2 separate regions of the Homo sapiens genome follow, and region 1 is linked to region 2. Evidence: fine-mapped expression QTL. Tissue or cell type: putamen. Region 2 holds a variant in brackets; the other region holds the start of a gene. All regions are shown on one strand. Distances are between the middles of the regions.

Evidence for each region. PIP is the estimated chance that this variant, and not a neighbour inherited with it, causes the effect.
Region 1: NUDT1 starts here. The variant in region 2 is fine-mapped to the expression of NUDT1 in putamen (GTEx, PIP 0.96).

Annotation. Positions count from the first base shown.
Region 1 is chr7:2,237,629-2,245,628 of GRCh38, forward strand. NUDT1 (nudix hydrolase 1) reads left to right here and starts at 4,598. Exons shown (of 4, transcript NM_002452.4): 1 at 4,598-4,628; 2 at 6,935-7,098. The coding sequence starts at 6,947. MRM2 (mitochondrial rRNA methyltransferase 2) reads right to left here and starts at 4,577. Exons shown (of 3, transcript NM_013393.3): 1 at 4,534-4,577; 2 at 1,790-2,079. The coding sequence starts at 4,541. RefSeq lists enhancers at 1-386, 1-71, 3,110-3,961 and a silencer at 4,284-4,503.
Region 2 is chr7:2,142,553-2,150,552 of GRCh38, forward strand. MAD1L1 (mitotic arrest deficient 1 like 1) reads right to left here. Exons shown (of 19, transcript NM_001013836.2): 11 at 6,600-6,686. Among named protein-coding and RNA genes, the nearest start is that of SNORA114, 58 kb to the left of the region's middle. RefSeq lists a silencer at 4,821-5,007. The variant A/G (reference allele first, on the strand shown) is at 4,686.

The DNA of each region.
Region 1 (8,000 bases), 95 kb after region 2:
GAGCTGAAAAACAATAAAAAGGCTTTCAGGCTGACCACGATGGAAGCACCAGGAAGCACCTCGAGGATGCTGGGAGGCAGAGGCGGGCGGATCACCTGAGGCCTGGAGTTCGAGACCAGCCTGGCCAACATGGCAAAACCTCATCTCTACTAAACATACAAAAATTAGCCGGAAATCACTTAAACACAGGAGGCAAAGATTACAGTGAGCCGAGATGGCGCCATTGCACTCCAGCCTGGGCAACAGAGTGAGGCTCTATAAACAAAAAAAAAAAAAAAAAAAAAAAATGCTGTTGAAAAGCCCGAAGAGGCATATCCCCGCCTAAGTATGGGCAGGGGCCACCCAAGGGGATGCAGGTAGACACCAAGAGTTCATGGCAAACCTACCGCAAACCAGCAGCGAGGCAGATGTGCAGATCCAGGGGGCCAGCATTCCATTTCTGCACTTTCAACAAGTCATGAAACCCTGAGCCTGTTTTCTCACCAATAAATGGGGACCAGTGTCCCTACTCTAAGGTATTTGGGAGAGACTTGGGAGAGCTCTGGGTGGACTGTCTCACCCTGTTCAAATGCCAGTGCATGCAGCTACCCTGGCTTTACAGCAGGAAACATAAATGGCAAGGATATTCACCACAGCACACGCATCCCAGCCAAAAGCCAAAAGCAACCTTGATGCCACAGTGAGGGAGCTGGTTAAAGAACCTACGGTGCAAGCACTACATGGAATAGGATGAAACTTTCCCAATGACGACAGTGTCTTCAGTTGCATGGGCGGTTGGCTGATCTCATTATTCAGGAGAACCTTTTTATATAGAAAATCTTACTCAAAACCCTAAGATACAAAACAGATGAAAACTGTGTCTCAGCTTCATCCAGAGCAAAGAATCCATAGCCCTGGCCATGAAGCCTCTTCTAGGTTCCGGACGGAGCAGCCCCAGTGGGGCCACCAGGAAAGCCCCAGGGCTTATGCGACTTGGAAATTTAGCTGTGCTGTTGGGGAAAGATGTCAATACATCATTAAGAGTAGCCGGGCACCATGGCTCACATCTGTAATCCCAGCACTTTGGGAGGCCGAGGTGGGCAGATCACCTGAGGTCAAGAGTTCGAGATCAGCCTAGCCAACATAGTGAAACCCTATCTCTACTTAAAAAAACAAAAAGAAAAAATTAGCTGGGTGCGGTGGCGGGCGCCTGTAATCCCAGCTACTTGGGAGGCTGAGGCAGGAGAATCGCTTGAACCAGGTAGGCAGAGGTTGCAGTGAGCCGAGATCACACCATTGCACTGCAGCCTGGGCAAGAGTGAGACTCCATCTGGAGGGGGGGGAAGAACAAAAATAATAACAATAATAATTATATATATATATATATATATATATATATATATATATATATATATATATATAATACATATATGTATGTATCATTAAGCAAAAATAGCTCCAATAGGCTGCAAATTAGCAAGAAAAGTATGGCACAACATCGCTTTTGAAAATGTGAGGGATCTATGCATGCACAAGCCTGGAAGGATGCACACCACCATGCTGGTGCTGGTACCTGCGGGCGGTCTCATGCGAGGTGATTTCCATGTTCACTGCACCTTTCTACCTTGTCTTTCATTTTGAAAATGGCAGCATCCTATTTTTATCATCACCATTGCTAAACCACCCACTCGGAAGCACACGCCTTCAAAAAAGGGCTCCACCATCCCGCATCCACTGGCAAAGGCAGCTTGCCCATGCCCACTCAGCCTCAGGGGAGCCAGAAGGTGCCAACAGCAGTGCAGAGGCCCACCTGTGCCTGCGGCGTTGACCTTCTGCACCGCCACCTGACTCCAGGCCCCAGGAGCTGCCCCACAGTCTAACACCCGAAGGCCGGGCCGCAGAATCTGGTGCCTCTCGTTCACCTCCAGGAGCTTGAAGGCGCTTCGACACCGGTAACTCTCCACCTTCGCAGCCTTCACAAATGGGTCCCTGAGATGTCGGGTCAGCCACAGGTGCTCAGCGCCTGTCCGATTCTTGCAGCGACTCCCAACAGTGTGGAACCCTTGACGCTGAAAGGAAACACACACCAGCTTCAAGTACCTGGTGGGAGAGAAGAGGAGCAGGCAGGTTGGCATCACACAGAACGGCAGGTCATGAGCTGGGAGGGCCCTCGGATCAACTCATTCATTTCTAGAGATGGGGCACCAAGGCCCAGGAGGGGAGGTGAACTGATAAGGCTACACAGATGGAAAGCAGGCATCACAGGCCAAACTGTGTCCCCGCAAAATTAATGTGTTGATGTCCTAACCCTTGGTACCTCAGAATATGGGGGTATTCGGAGACACCTGTAATTCCAGCACTTTTGGAGGCCAAGACAGGTGGATCCCCTGAGGTCAGGATTTCGAGACCAGCCTGGCCAACCGTGGCCAACATGATGAAACCCCGTCTCTACTAAAATGCAAAAATTAGCCTGGCGTGGTGGCAGATGCCTATAAACCCAGCTACTCGGGAGGCTGAAGCAGGAGAATCGCCTGAACCCAGGAGGCAGAGGTTGCAGTGAGCCGAGATTGCGCCACTGCACTCCAGCCTGGGCGACAGAGCGAGACTCTGTCTCAAACAATAACTAAATACATCAATTAATTAATTAAAGTAATATTATTTTCTCATCTGGCAAAAATGTTCATTGGGCTCTGACAGGCTGCAAGAAAACCTCATAAGGACAGATCCTTGCCTTAGTGACCTAGTTCCAGGGCTTTGACAGCTAGTACAGAGGGTCTGGCCTGTCACATTTCTTTTTTTCTTCTTTTTTTCGAGACAGGGTCTCGCTCTATAGCCCAGGCTGGAGTGCAGTGGTGAGGTCACGGTTCAACGCAGATTCGAACTCCTGGGCTCAAACAATCCTCTCACCTACATGTCTTAAATAAAATTGAACTAAACCTGTGTCAATCGTTGAAGGACAATTTCCAAGATTCTCTAGACAATTGTTACAATAAATGTAACAATTTATTCACAGCCCACAATAGCTAAGCAGGTGGAAGCTATACACACCTCCCCTTGTTTAACTCTGACAACAACCTCACCAAGGAAGTTCTATGTCCTCTTTTTCTTTTTTTAAGACGGAGTCTCACTCTGGCGCCCAGGCTGGAGTGCAGTGACAGCTCACTGCAGCCTCCGACTCCCGGGTTCAAGCAATTCTCCTGCCCCAGCCTCCCAAGTAGCTGGGATTACAGGCACACCTGCTACCATGTCCGGCTAATGTTTGTATTTTCAGTATAGATGGGTTCCACCATGTTGGCCAGGCTGGTCTCAAACTCCTGACCTCCGCTGATCTGCCCGCCTTGGCCTCCCAAAGTGCTGGGATTACAGGTGTAAGCCACTGCACCCAGGCATTTCTTTCTTCTTTTTGTTTTTTTAGAGACAGGGTTTTACTATTACCCAGGCTGGAGTGCAGTGGCATGATCACAGCTGACTGCAGCCACAGCCTCTGGGGCTCAAGTGAACCTCCCACCTCAGCCTCCTGAGTAGCTGAGACTACAGGTGTGTGCCACCACTTCCGGCTAATTTTTCTATTTTCAGTAGAGATGGGATTTCACCATGTTGGCCGAGCTGGTCTCGAACTCCTGACCTCTGGCGATCAGCCCACCTTGGCCTCCCAAAGTGCTGGGATTACAGGCGTGAACCACCTCACCCGGCCATTTTTGTTTTGCTATCATCCAGGCTGGAGTTGCAGTGGCACAATCACAGCTGATTGCTGCCATAACCTCTGGGTCTCAAGTGAACCTCCCACCTCAGCCTCCTGAGTAGCTGGGACTACAGGTGTGCACCACCATGCCTGGGCTAATTTTTTTTTTTTTTTTAATTCTTAAAAACCTTTTTTAGAGATGGCATCTCACTACATTGCCTAGGCTGGTCTCGAACTCCTAGGCTCAAACGATCCTCCTGCCTCAGACTTCCAAAGTGCTGGGATGACAGGTGTGGGCCACCAAGCCCGGTCTCTATGTCCATCTTTCTGATTTAAATAAATAAATAAAAGTTACCACCCTCATGGCTCCAAGGCCAAAGCTTCTAGCTTCTGCAACACCAAAGCGTGCTGACAAGCCAGGAGGCACTGACTGCTGACCGTGAGTCGCTGTCTTCCCCTCGCTTAAGGGGTCTCCCGGGAAAATGGCACAAGCCGGTCCCGGGGGCCAGGGCCCACTCGACAGCCCAGGAAGCGCGGGCAATGGAGCTACCCGGCCCAGAAGCGAAATCCCGCCCCGGGCTCGCCCCCGGCGCCTTGGATCTGGGCCCCGGCGCTGCGCCCCCCACCTGGACTCCGCCGCCGGCCCCGGCCTCCCCACGGCCCCGCCGGCCCTGCCCCTGGAGACCTGAGGGCGCCCTCCTCCCGGGGAACTGCGACCCGGAATCCTGGCCTCGCCCCTGTCGCGCTCGCTGAGTGCGGGGACGGTGCCCAGCGCTCGGCACCCAGCCCCGAGGCCAGGACCGAGGAAGGCGACCGGGCGGACCCCCAACCACTCCCGCTGTCTGCACGCGCAGCAGCAGCGCCCAGCTCACCCCGCCATTGGTGTTCCCCGCGCCTGCAGCGCGCCGCCGGAAGTGCCTGGCCTCACTTCCGGTCAGAGGCCACGCCCCCGGAAGCGGCGGTGCAGGTACGAAAAGCGCGCGCGGGGATTCCAGGAGTCGTGGTGACCAGGGAGGGGAGCCGGGCCAGCGGGCGGCAGGAGACTAGGGGAGCTGAGCCATGGGCTTGGGGGAGAGCGGGGCCGGGAGCTCGAAGGAGACCAGAAGAGCAGGGTCGGGGGCTCGAGGGAGACGAGGAGAGCGGGGCCGGGGGTTTGGGAGAGAGACAAGGAGAGCGGGGCGGAGGCTTGGGGGAGACCAGGAGTAAATCACAAAAATTTACTTTGGAAACCGTGGCTTCTGGCAGAAACAGATCAGTGTCGGGACAAAGTACACGGGCCTGGTGTGAAACTAAGCCACAAACCCATTTACCCTGTCTGACCTGCCTCCGCCACCAGGACCCAGTCTCAGTGAAATGGGAAAGGTTCCCTTGTCCTCCTCGAAGGGCGTGCGATGAGGATGTGGCTCACTTCTTCAGTGCCCCGCTTCTCAAGCCTCTAGGGGAACATACAGACAGGCAGGCTGAGGGGCTCCCACCCCACGGCAGTGTCTAGGGGTGAATGTTTGCAGCTCCTGAAGCCCCAGCAGGCATGTGTTAGAGGGTGCTCTTTCAGTTTAGCCTTGTAGGTGGCTTGTGTTAGTCAGCTGTTAGACTCCCTGCCTTATCGCAAGGACAGAGGGCTTTCTGTATCCCTAGGTTTCTTGCCTTGATGTACTGGAGCAATCAGATCACACGGCGGCTTGGAGAGTGAGTGCAAGGTTTTATGAGTGGAATTAGCCCTCAGCAGATGGGGGAGCCAGAAGGCAGTTGGAGTGGGAAGGTGATTTTCCCCTGGAGTCGGGCTGCTGAGCAGCCTGGGCTCTCCTCTGACCGCCCCTGCCAAACTCATGGTTCCATCAGTTGATGGCCTGCTGGTGCCTGTTGGTGTGCTTTCCACGTCCTCTTGACGTCCAGCGGCTTGTGTCTCTGCCCACTATAAAAAACCACTGGGGTTTTTTTATAGGCACAGGACGGGGACGTGGCGGGCTCGGGAAATGCAACATTTGGGCAAAAAAACAGAAATGCCTGTCCTCACCCAGGTCCCTGGGCACAGGCCTGGGTGTGGAGCCCTGGCCAGAGACCACGCCCTCCTCTACCCAGCACTTCCCTGCCCCCTTCCTTATCATCTGGTCCCTTTTCTCAGACACCACAACTTCCAAGAAGGATCACTGGTCCTGAACCCTGTGTCTTGTCCAGGTGTGGACCCCAGAAAAGTTGGTCCTGGCTGGGCGCAGTGGCTCACGCCTGTAATCTCAGCACTTTGGGAGGCTGAGGTGGGTGGATCGCTTGAGCTCAGGAGTTCGTGACCAGCCTGGGCAACGTGACAAAACCCCATCTCTACTAAAAATACAGAAATTAGCTGGGTGTGGCGGCTCATGCCTGTGGTCCCAGCTATGTGGGATGCTGAGGCAGGAGGATGGCTTCAGCCAGGGAGGCGGAGGTTACAGTGAACCGCGATCACGCCACTCTCCTCCAGCCTGGGCAACAGAGCAGGATCTTGTCTCAAAATAAATAAAGGAAAGTTGGTCCTGGCCCTCCAGCATTTCTCCAGGGTCCTTTTTTCAGCAGGGACCTGGCGGAGGCATCGCCCTCAGAGTCCTCTGGACCTGGACCTGCACACCTATGGGAGCAGGAAGGACCCTTGTGACTTCCAGTGGCCCCCCTGGGTGCCAGGTCCCACAGTAGCCACAGCAGGAGCAGAGTGGGTGGGGTATAAACTCCTATCACAGGAGGGAGGACTAGCCGGGCCTGGCTGGGTGGACCTGTGTCTACAGCCACACATTTCCTGGGAATCTGGAAGCCTGCTACAGAGAGGCCAGGTCCCACTAGACTGAAAGAAGTTCCTGTTAATCCAAAGGCCTGACCTGAGGACCACAGGATAAACTGCGTGGTTATTTTGGTGCCAATCAGGCACGGGGACTGTTGTTCCTCACTGTGTGCCTATAAGCAGGGGGTTCCTGGGGGTAGACGCAGGAGCAAGAGCACGCTCTGGAAAGGTGATGTTGTCCTCTGCACCTGAGTACTGACTTGTGGAGAAGGAAGGTAGCGCCGGCCTCTGCTCTGCTTGATCAGCCCTGCTGACCACTGGGTTCTGTTTCTACCCCAGAAAATCACTGGTTCAATGGCAGTTTTCCACCTGCCACAAGGGAAGCCACACGTGGCAGGGCTGGGGAGTTACAGCATACCCCCCCGCCCCCCACTGCCTCCCAGAGCACGTCCCCTTCCTCCTGGCCCCTGGCACGTGCTTCCTCCACGCACGTCATGGCTGACTCTGCCCTCTCACCTTCCTTTCAGAACCCAGGGACCATGGGCGCCTCCAGGCTCTATACCCTGGTGCTGGTCCTGCAGCCTCAGCGAGTTCTCCTGGGCATGAAAAAGCGAGGCTTCGGGGCCGGCCGGTGGAATGGCTTTGGGGGCAAAGTGCAAGAAGGAGAGACCATCGAGGATGGGGCTAGGAGGTAAGGATGGGGCAGGTCTGGCCATAGAACCGGCTTTCCCAGGGCACAGGGATTCGGGCTGTAGGGCCACACCCTTGGTTTCACCACTAAGAGCTAAGTGACCTGGAGCAGGGGGTTAAGCGTGAGCCTCAGTGTCTTCATCTCAGAATGAAGAACAGTCCGCAGCCCTTCGGACTCTTGTGAAGATAAAATGAGGAAATGAACTCGAAGGACTTAGAACGGTGCGCGGTGTGCGGTGCGTGCTGAGTGCGTGTTAGCTGTTGTGGTGCGGTGGTGCTGGGGGCTGCAGGGCGTATCTGGAAGCCTCTGTGCAGCAGCTTGAATTGAACCCTCCCAGCACCCTCACTGTTGCCGAAGGGCTCGTCAGTCACTTGGTTCCTCTGTCTGTTCAGTGGAGCTGATGATCGCTTTCATCTCACACTCGCTGTGCACAAAGCCTCACTGCATCCTCAACACAGCCAGCTTCACCTAGGAAGGAACTGAAGCCCAGAGAGGTTGAGCCGTTTACCCAAGATCACACAGTCCTCCAGACGCCCCTCAACCCTCACAGGGTAAATGAGATCATCTGTGTAAACATCGCTGCACAGACGTTAGCCCCCGTTCGTGTTTTTGTTCTGAGAAAGGTAGGCCAGCTTGCCTGGAGAGGAGAACTACAGAGTAAAGAGGGTCCTGGCACGGAGGAAAGCCAGGACGCTGCAGCCTAGTGGCTTTCCAATTTTTTCATCACAACCTGCAGTAAGAAATACGTTTTGTACTCTGATAGAGTGTACACACTCAGGTGTGCAGGTACAGCTAAAGTAAGTTGCAGTAGCCGCCCTTATTACATAAAAGGGGGCTCTACTTTTCCGATTCATTTCTCTTTTTTTCTCCAGAGGTGGGATCTCACCCATGGCACACTCTTG
Region 2 (8,000 bases):
AGGGCACGGTGCCACCCAGAGCTCCTGGCGCGTGCCCTGCCACAGCCCTGGACCAGACAGGCATGGCAGGCTGCCACCGTGGAATACATGGAGACAGCCCATTAGACTCAGGCTGATTCCACACCTTCTGCCAAAGACCATTTACATCGAGTGGCGCCAAAGCCGAACGGACGCAACAAGGCCTCTGGCCATGTCAAACCCCAGGGGCCCCCTTATGCCGAGAGCAGGTGGTCAGGTTGAGCATGAGACTTGCTGGGAACACATGGCTGAGGCCATGGTCAGTTCAAGGGCAGGCCAGAACTGGCCATCCCGATGTGCTCTCTCACCCACACTGATCCACGGCAAATTCCGTCACCTTGACCTCCCAGATGCCCCCACCGCCTAACCCGTCTGATCATCACCACTGGCCACACACAGGAGACATCCTGCCCCACAGAGTCCCCTGGAAAACTTACCCCTGCCATGCCCTGAAGGCTCCCAGAAATTGTACTTTCCCATTACCTCAAAAAGTGACAGCAGGACACGGTGCCAGTGATGACAAGGACTAGCTAAAAACCTGCACCCTGAGCCAGCACCGTCCACAGGCTCCATAGAGGCGACTGCACTGAGCCTCAAAACCCCCAACAGGAGTCACCATCACCAGAAAGACTCGCTCGGAGAGCCACTCCTGGTAGAGCCAAATGCAAACACAGGCCCCAGGAACCTGGGCCAGTGGTGGCTTCTCCAGCGGGAGGCCCCTCAAGTGCAAGAGGGGAACAGCCCAGCCACCATGGATCTCGTATGCCTTGCTGGTCTCTGGATGACTCAAGTGCACCATAATTCAGATGCCAGGTGACAAGGCCTTGTTACGTCCTTGAGAGGACGGCCTAACCACCTGGGACCAACAGCAGGAAAGACTCATAACTAGTAAACTGATCTTCACTCACTCTTGGGAGGTGACAGAAACCTGAGGCAGGAAGAGGCTCAGAAAAGCACCGTCTGTGACAGAAAACATGGTGATATCCACTCATCACACCCAATGACTCTCGAGTCCCTTATGCTTGACAAGGGCCTGACTCCTCCTGACGCTGCCCAGGCCCCTGATGGCAGCAGTAGATGAAACAGGCCAGGCCCAGGCACCTGGAAGCACCACACGGCCAGGTGCTCCAGGACATGCCAGCCTTGTGGCTTCAGGCCAAGGGCTCTTCTGCCTGGAGGCAGCAAGGTGGGATCTTCAAAACAAACTGCGGCGATCACAGCCCAGGCTGGAATGCACTTCTGGGAAAGCCGATGCACAGAGGGGAGGCAGGGGAGGCCAGGGCAGACCCCAACATGAAGAGCTCCATCTGCATCCACGGCCCTCAGGGGCTCCCCTCTGTGGACTTCTCAGCCGGCTCTACCTTAAGTCAGCATCGAGGAGGATGCCTGGGGCTTCAAACAGGCAAAACAGCACCAGGCAGGATCCATGACCCAGGGTCTCTGCTGAGGCAGAGAAGCAAGGCCAAAGCCGAGACGGCAGCCACACAACGTGTCCCACAGGGACCCAGGAGCCACCTGCAAACACATCCCACAGAGCTCTGGAGACCCACAGGCCTGGACGCACGTCCTGCTTTCACCACCTCCCAGCTGTTTAGCCCGGGGCTCAAGTTCCTCCCTGCAAAAGAGGGAATCATAAGAGCTTCCAGCTGGGAGCGTCTGTGAGGCTCAAGTGAGAGGCTGCGCATGAAGCACAGCGCAGCGCATGGTGAGGGCAGATGCGAGACAAACACTGACTGCTCTCAGCGTCCCCATCGTCATTCATCGCCGGGATTACAGATGATACACCTGAACCCTGGAGCCCTCACGGGGTCCTGAGAGGCCCCGCTCCCGCCACCAGCCCTCTCCAAAGCACGGTCTTATTTCCAGCACAGCAGAGAAACCGCCAAGAGCATGGCCCCACGCATCCCTGCCCGAGCTTCCCAGCCCTGTTCTTCACGAGCCCTCAGAGCACGCTGGCCTATTCCCCCCCAGATCTGAAAGATGACAGCATGGCCACGGGCTGGGCCACAGAGGACTGCAGCCTCCTGTCCCGGCTCTTCCCACGGCAGAGCTGGGGACGCCAGGCAGAGGGGTGCTTGGGTCCCTAAGGGCCAAGGAGACTAAGAGGGCCCGGAAAGGGAAGGGAGGCTACAGGGCAGCCCCGGGGTGCCCTGTGTGAAGCGTGAGCAGAGGGCGCACCAGATCCACCCACTGATTCTGAACAGTATGCCCTGTCCTCAGCCCCACAACCAGGAGGTCCATTCTCAGATTCTAAGAGCCGAAACGAGGCTTGAGCGTAAACCAGGCCAGGCTCCCCTACACTGCCATGAAGCTCCTGCTCCAAGGTAAAGAGGCCCAGGATCTCTGACACGCTCTGCTCACACCAGTGACCAATGACGCCCCATCTGTCCACGGCTAAAGGAAGGGAGAAACACACAGGAGGCAAGGTTTGGTGGTTCTGACCCAACCCCCAGGCTGCAATGCACTCAAGCACCCCACCCTCCTGGAGCGCCTTACGGCCAGTGCCCTGTAGGCTGCCCCGCTGCCCACTGAGAGCCCTGCCTGCTCCTGGCTCCACAGCCAGCCCCGGACCCTTCGTCACAGCACCACGTCCCGGGGACTGCCGAGAGCTGCTGCACCAGGCACGTTACCAACGTCATCCCGCTGAATCCTCAAGCAGCCCCACAGACACTCTCTCTGCTGTAAGACAGGAATTCCAGTGCAGCACCTGAGCAAACCCGCATAAAGCTAACAAGCAGGCTCCTCGCAACCCTGGAAAGCAGTAAGTCCTACACTGAGAGTTCCAGAAGCTTCTTGCCTCTACCAACTCCAGCCCCAAGACCAGAATGCAGCACAGGTGCCACCGTGGGGCTTCCAGCCTCCAGTCCTAAGAGCGCAGAAACATTCAGACAGAAACTTCAGTCCAGCTCACAGCAGCGTTTGGAACTGTGCTTCACCAGTAAAAGGGGTCAAAACTATAGCTCAATGCTAGGAAAATTCCTTCTTGCTCCAGGCTGGTTGGTGGCCCAGCAGCTAACTCCGAGATATGGTGTCATTTTCTCTTCCTCAAACAAGGGAGGTGATGGCTTCCGGCTCGGCATCTGCTCACTGCGGGATGATCTGTTTCCTGCACCAGGTTGCACGGCAAGCTGACATCAGACCCTCCCTGGGCGGCCTTCCCTACCTTGGAACTCCTCTGGGTGGGAGAGCTCCAGGATCCTCCCTGAAACAGGCTGGAATGCTACTGCAGTAACTATGGAGAGAAACTGAGGCAAACTTTAAAAAGGCAGCAACGGCAGGAACTCCGCAGAGGAGCCCGACCCACAGGACCTGCTGAGGTACCTGCTGGCTTCTGGCTTCACGGACGTGGACATGTGTCATGTTGGTGAAAGGAACACCAAGTCACCAAGACAGCGACTGTGGGAAGGGCGCTCTGTTCCGCACATCAGATCAGCAGAGAAGGAAAGTTACACAACACCCAGGAAGTGCATCAAGACTGCGTGGTGTAGGCTGCTCACAGCGGCACACTACGCCGGCTGATAGGCAACATTCATCTTCTAAAAGCCAAGCTCCTGAAAACAGGCACACGAATGACCCAGCCGTCACTTCAGAAGCTCGGCCTGAGGCACAAGCATTCCGAGATGCTGCCACGTGAGCTACCCCAGCGGCACCGTCACAGCAGCACCGCCTGGAAGAGGGAGCACCGGGCACTGGGCTACGAGGAACAGGGTACCACCTCGATGAGGGAGCACCGGGCACTGGGCTACGAGGAACAGGGCACCGCCTCGAAGAGGGAGCACCGGGCACTGGGCTACGAGGAACAGGGCAACGCCTCGAAGAGGGAGCACCGGGCACTGGGCTACGAGGAACAGGGCAGTGGAGCCGCACCCTGAGAAGCTCCTCAGATGGCGAGAACAGCGTTCACTACCAGGGAAAGATGGACACGGCCAACATACTTGGTAAAAACTGCAGAGGAGAACATACGTGGTCACAAGCACGTGCCCGCTGGTCCGCACAGACGAGGGAAAATGCCCAGCAGCTGCTCTCATGACCCGTGACCTCAGCTGGACCAGGGCTCTGTTCTTCAGTGACTACAAGCTACTTTCAATGAGAAACAAACAAAAGTGACTTTAAAATGAGGCCCGCCTGGCAAAGCCCTCGGGGATCTGGGCCACCGTGGCCTCCCATCTTCTGCCATGCCGCCTCCTTCACGCTCATCTGAATTTCTGTCCAACTGCCTGTAAGAGACTTGTAGAAATGTGCTCAGCTGTTCAACCGTGCGAGGCTCCCTGACCCCGCCACGGCAGGCCGCGACGAACACGGTGTCCCGCCACGGAAGAGAGCAGCAGCCCAGAGGCCAGAACGCAAGCACCAAGGCCACGACGGGACTCATCCACACCTCATTGGCCACTGCCAGCGCTGCCTGTCCTAGGGTCTGCCTCCTTCCTGGGCCTTGGAAGTGCACAAAAGGGCCAGGCACTCAGCGTCACCAGGCCCCAGAAAGCCTTGGTCGGGAAGTGTCCACCCACCAGCAAGCAGCACTGAGACCCGGGGACGGCTCAGTGCCCAGGCGCAGTTCAGGAGGCTCAGACCTCACAGCAACCCAGTCGTTACTGCCAGTACCTTTCAGCTCACAGAGATGAAGAGAGGACCAGGTGCCTGCCCAAGTCACATGACCAGCAAGGAGC[A/G]GACCAGCCGCCCCCCAGGACCTGCAGGCAAGAGGGACCGGGAGCTCCAACCTCACGCCCAGAGGCCTCCTGCGCCTCTCCACTGCCCCATCTCAGGGAAGCGTCTCCAGCGCTCCTGGCGACGGGTGACCAGCGCCATCTGGAGCCTGCACCTTGGCTAAAGAAGCCCACACAGGGCAATAAGCCACACGTGGGACAGAAGCCAGCATACAGACACACACATGAAAGCAAGCTGGAAACGCTTGTGAGAACCCAGGATTTCAGGGCAGCTTCTCCCTTTGGCCTCCCAGACCAGCGCAGTACTGAGGACCTCGTCTCACCCCCAAGACCCCATTTCACAGAACAGGACGGAGCACCAAGCGCGTCCATGGGATGCCCCAAGACTCACCCTTCCCCAGGGCGGGTGCCCCAGCTCTCAGAGGGAGCCCACAGGTCCTGAGAGGCCAGCCACAGCTGGGGTTGTGAGGACCACCTGCCCACTGTAGAGGCTGCTCCCTGAGACAGAGACCCCATTCCCAAACCAATCCCCCCATGGGCTCAATCCACATCTCTGACCACAGCGAAGGCAACATGGGCAGCATGCAGATGCGAATGTTCCCTTCCGTGTGGCCCTGGACACAGAGATGGGCCTGCTGCTGCTGGTCAAGGCAAATAATTTTAGGAAGCACCTCCCTGTTTGGTGGGAGAAAAGTACAGGCAACTTTCCTTTCCTTTAATAGTTCATTCTGTTTCATTTCCAAAGTAAAATGATGAGGATCGCCTGGTAAAGTGTGAACGCTTTAACTTCAAATCACTTTTAATGCCTGTTTCATCTGACAGCGGCTTTGAAAGCAAAAGGCAATCTTTATCATTTGAGGTTTTTCAGTAAATTGATGTGATTATGTCCAACACAACCAGATGCTTCTAAAAGCCAATTTTCAAAGTGACATCAGCCCCCAAAATAAGAAACCTCCTTCTGGCTATTAATAAATTATTAAAACACTCTCTCCACAGGAGGACAAGGCTGAGCTTGATCATCAATGGCAAACAGGTGAGCTTCAGGCCCTCCGCACAGACCCACGGCCTGGTCAGCCGTGCAGGGCGCAGAGCTCCCCTGGGGCCCCGTTGCACGGCCCTTCCCTCTGCCGCAAGCCCACCCCACTGCCCACCAGCCCCACAGGTCCCACCGGATGGGGTTCAGTCCCTCATGGTAGCTCCACCTTCTGGTCAGGGGCAGGCATAAGACCCCTTCTTAGCCAAGGAGGCATAAGGGGCCCTTGCTGGCAGTGGGGGTCCTAGGAAACGCTTTCTTGTACAGAAAAGATCCAAAAAAGAGGCCTCTCATTTCCGCCTCTGGGTGTGATGCCGGAGCCTGGATGGCCCCTCACAGCCACGAGCGAAACCAGAGAAGAGCCGGGCTGTGGGATAAGAAGAAATACATATCTGATCGTCATCCCAGGTTCCCTGAAGCCCTTGGGACTTCCTGAGTGAGGGGCATGTCTCTTGGTATTCATAGTGAGCCCCTTCCAATCACGCCTGCATTCATGCTGACGTGAAGACTCAGGGTGGGCCCGCTAGTGACCGACGGGCTGGTTCCCAAGACCACATGAGGCCCCAACCCTGCTGGGAAGACAAGAACCCTCCTGATCCAAGGAGGGACCCCACAACAGGAGGCCAACCCCCAGACCCCATGGCAGTTTAGCACATTGTCAGAACGATGGACGGTGGTGCCTCAGCGGAGGCTCACAGCACATGGTGGAAACATGGGGCAAACCCTTCCCTCAAATCCCTGCTCCCCCATCTCCTCCCAGACCAGGGCCAACCACATGATGAAGGACAGCCATCCCCCAAGAGCCAGGGGGCACACACTCTCACTCACCCCTAACTCTCCAAAGCAAACGCATCCCCACAAGCACCCTGGGCGGCCAGGTCTACCTGCTGGTGACGGCGCTGTTCTTGTCCTTCAAGGCAAGCTCCCTCTGCTGCAGCTCAACCACGAATCTGGAAAGGTCTTCTGGAGTCCTGCAGGATAAACAAGGCACACTCAGTTCCAGCTGTCCCCGAGAAGTAAACCTGATTCTGCACACAAAACAGAAGGCCAAAAGCAACCTCTGTAGCTGATGCTCTGGGACCCAGGATGTGTGAACTCTGTGGACCCAGGTCCAGGGCAGCATGCACGCACTACAGCCTGGGGTCAACCACAGCCCCCACCCCTATGCAACACCGGGGAGATGACCTTAGAAAGCCCCGATTTTACTTCACCTGTAGAAACAGAGACACGACCTGACAGTGTCACTCTTCAGAGGAAACGAAATCATGTTTAAAAAGCACCCGCCAGGCCCCTGGCACAGGGGAGGTGCTCAGCGAGTTTTAAGTTCCTTTCCTCACCTCTCCTTCAGAAGACCCACATATAACAACAAGAGTAAAATCAGCGATCTCCAGGTGTAGCGCTTTCTACTTTCCAGGACGATTCCAGATTGTCTCAGTGAATGCCCCAGCAACCCTGTTGTTCACCGTTTCCATTTTTTAAACGAGGAAACTCAGACTCCAATGTGAAACAGCCGCTTCAAAGTTCAAAGTGCACCCCGATGATCAGCAACAGCTGAGCTCGGCCCGAGCCACATCTTCTAACTCAACGCTGGGACTCCGGAGGACACAGCAAGGATCTGAGCCATGCATGCAAAGTTACGCCAGTGGTGTGTGAGCATTCCCAGCCTCACAACCTGGGGCACAAAGCCAAGGCTCCCTGGCTAGACTGACCCAGTGGCATGTGAGCTCAGGCCCGAGGACCCATCCTTGTTCTTCTCTTCACCTGTCATGGACCAAGCGCAGGTCCACATAGAAAGCAGGCGCTGGCAATGCTGTGAGAGCCCCACCCAGCCCCACTCAGGGAGCCCGCACCGCACCACTGAATGAGCAACGGGGACCCCGACATTGGCCAAGGAGGCTACCTGCACCCCTGGAAGGAGAGGTCCCAGTCACTCTGTCAGCCAGGCCCCCAGAGCAGCCTCGGGTGGATCCCGGGCACACCCTCCCAGCAGCCTGCCCGGGAGCTCCTCTCTGCGAGTCAGCCACGGCCACGGAGAGGCACACTGCAACCACGGACCCCTAACAGAAGCCATCCTGCTGCCTAAAACGCGCACGCTGCAAACCTCACGCACTGGGCCCGACCAGACTCTGCCCTGAGACAGCCACTGACCTTTCCTGTCACTTGAGCACCCTACCCATGGGCCCCCGAAACCCTCATCAGCTCATCCAGCGCTCACACAGCCCCTCCCCCGGTCTTCCAGCACCCAGCTCCTCCTCCAAACAGAGGAAGGGCCACTTCCTTACAGT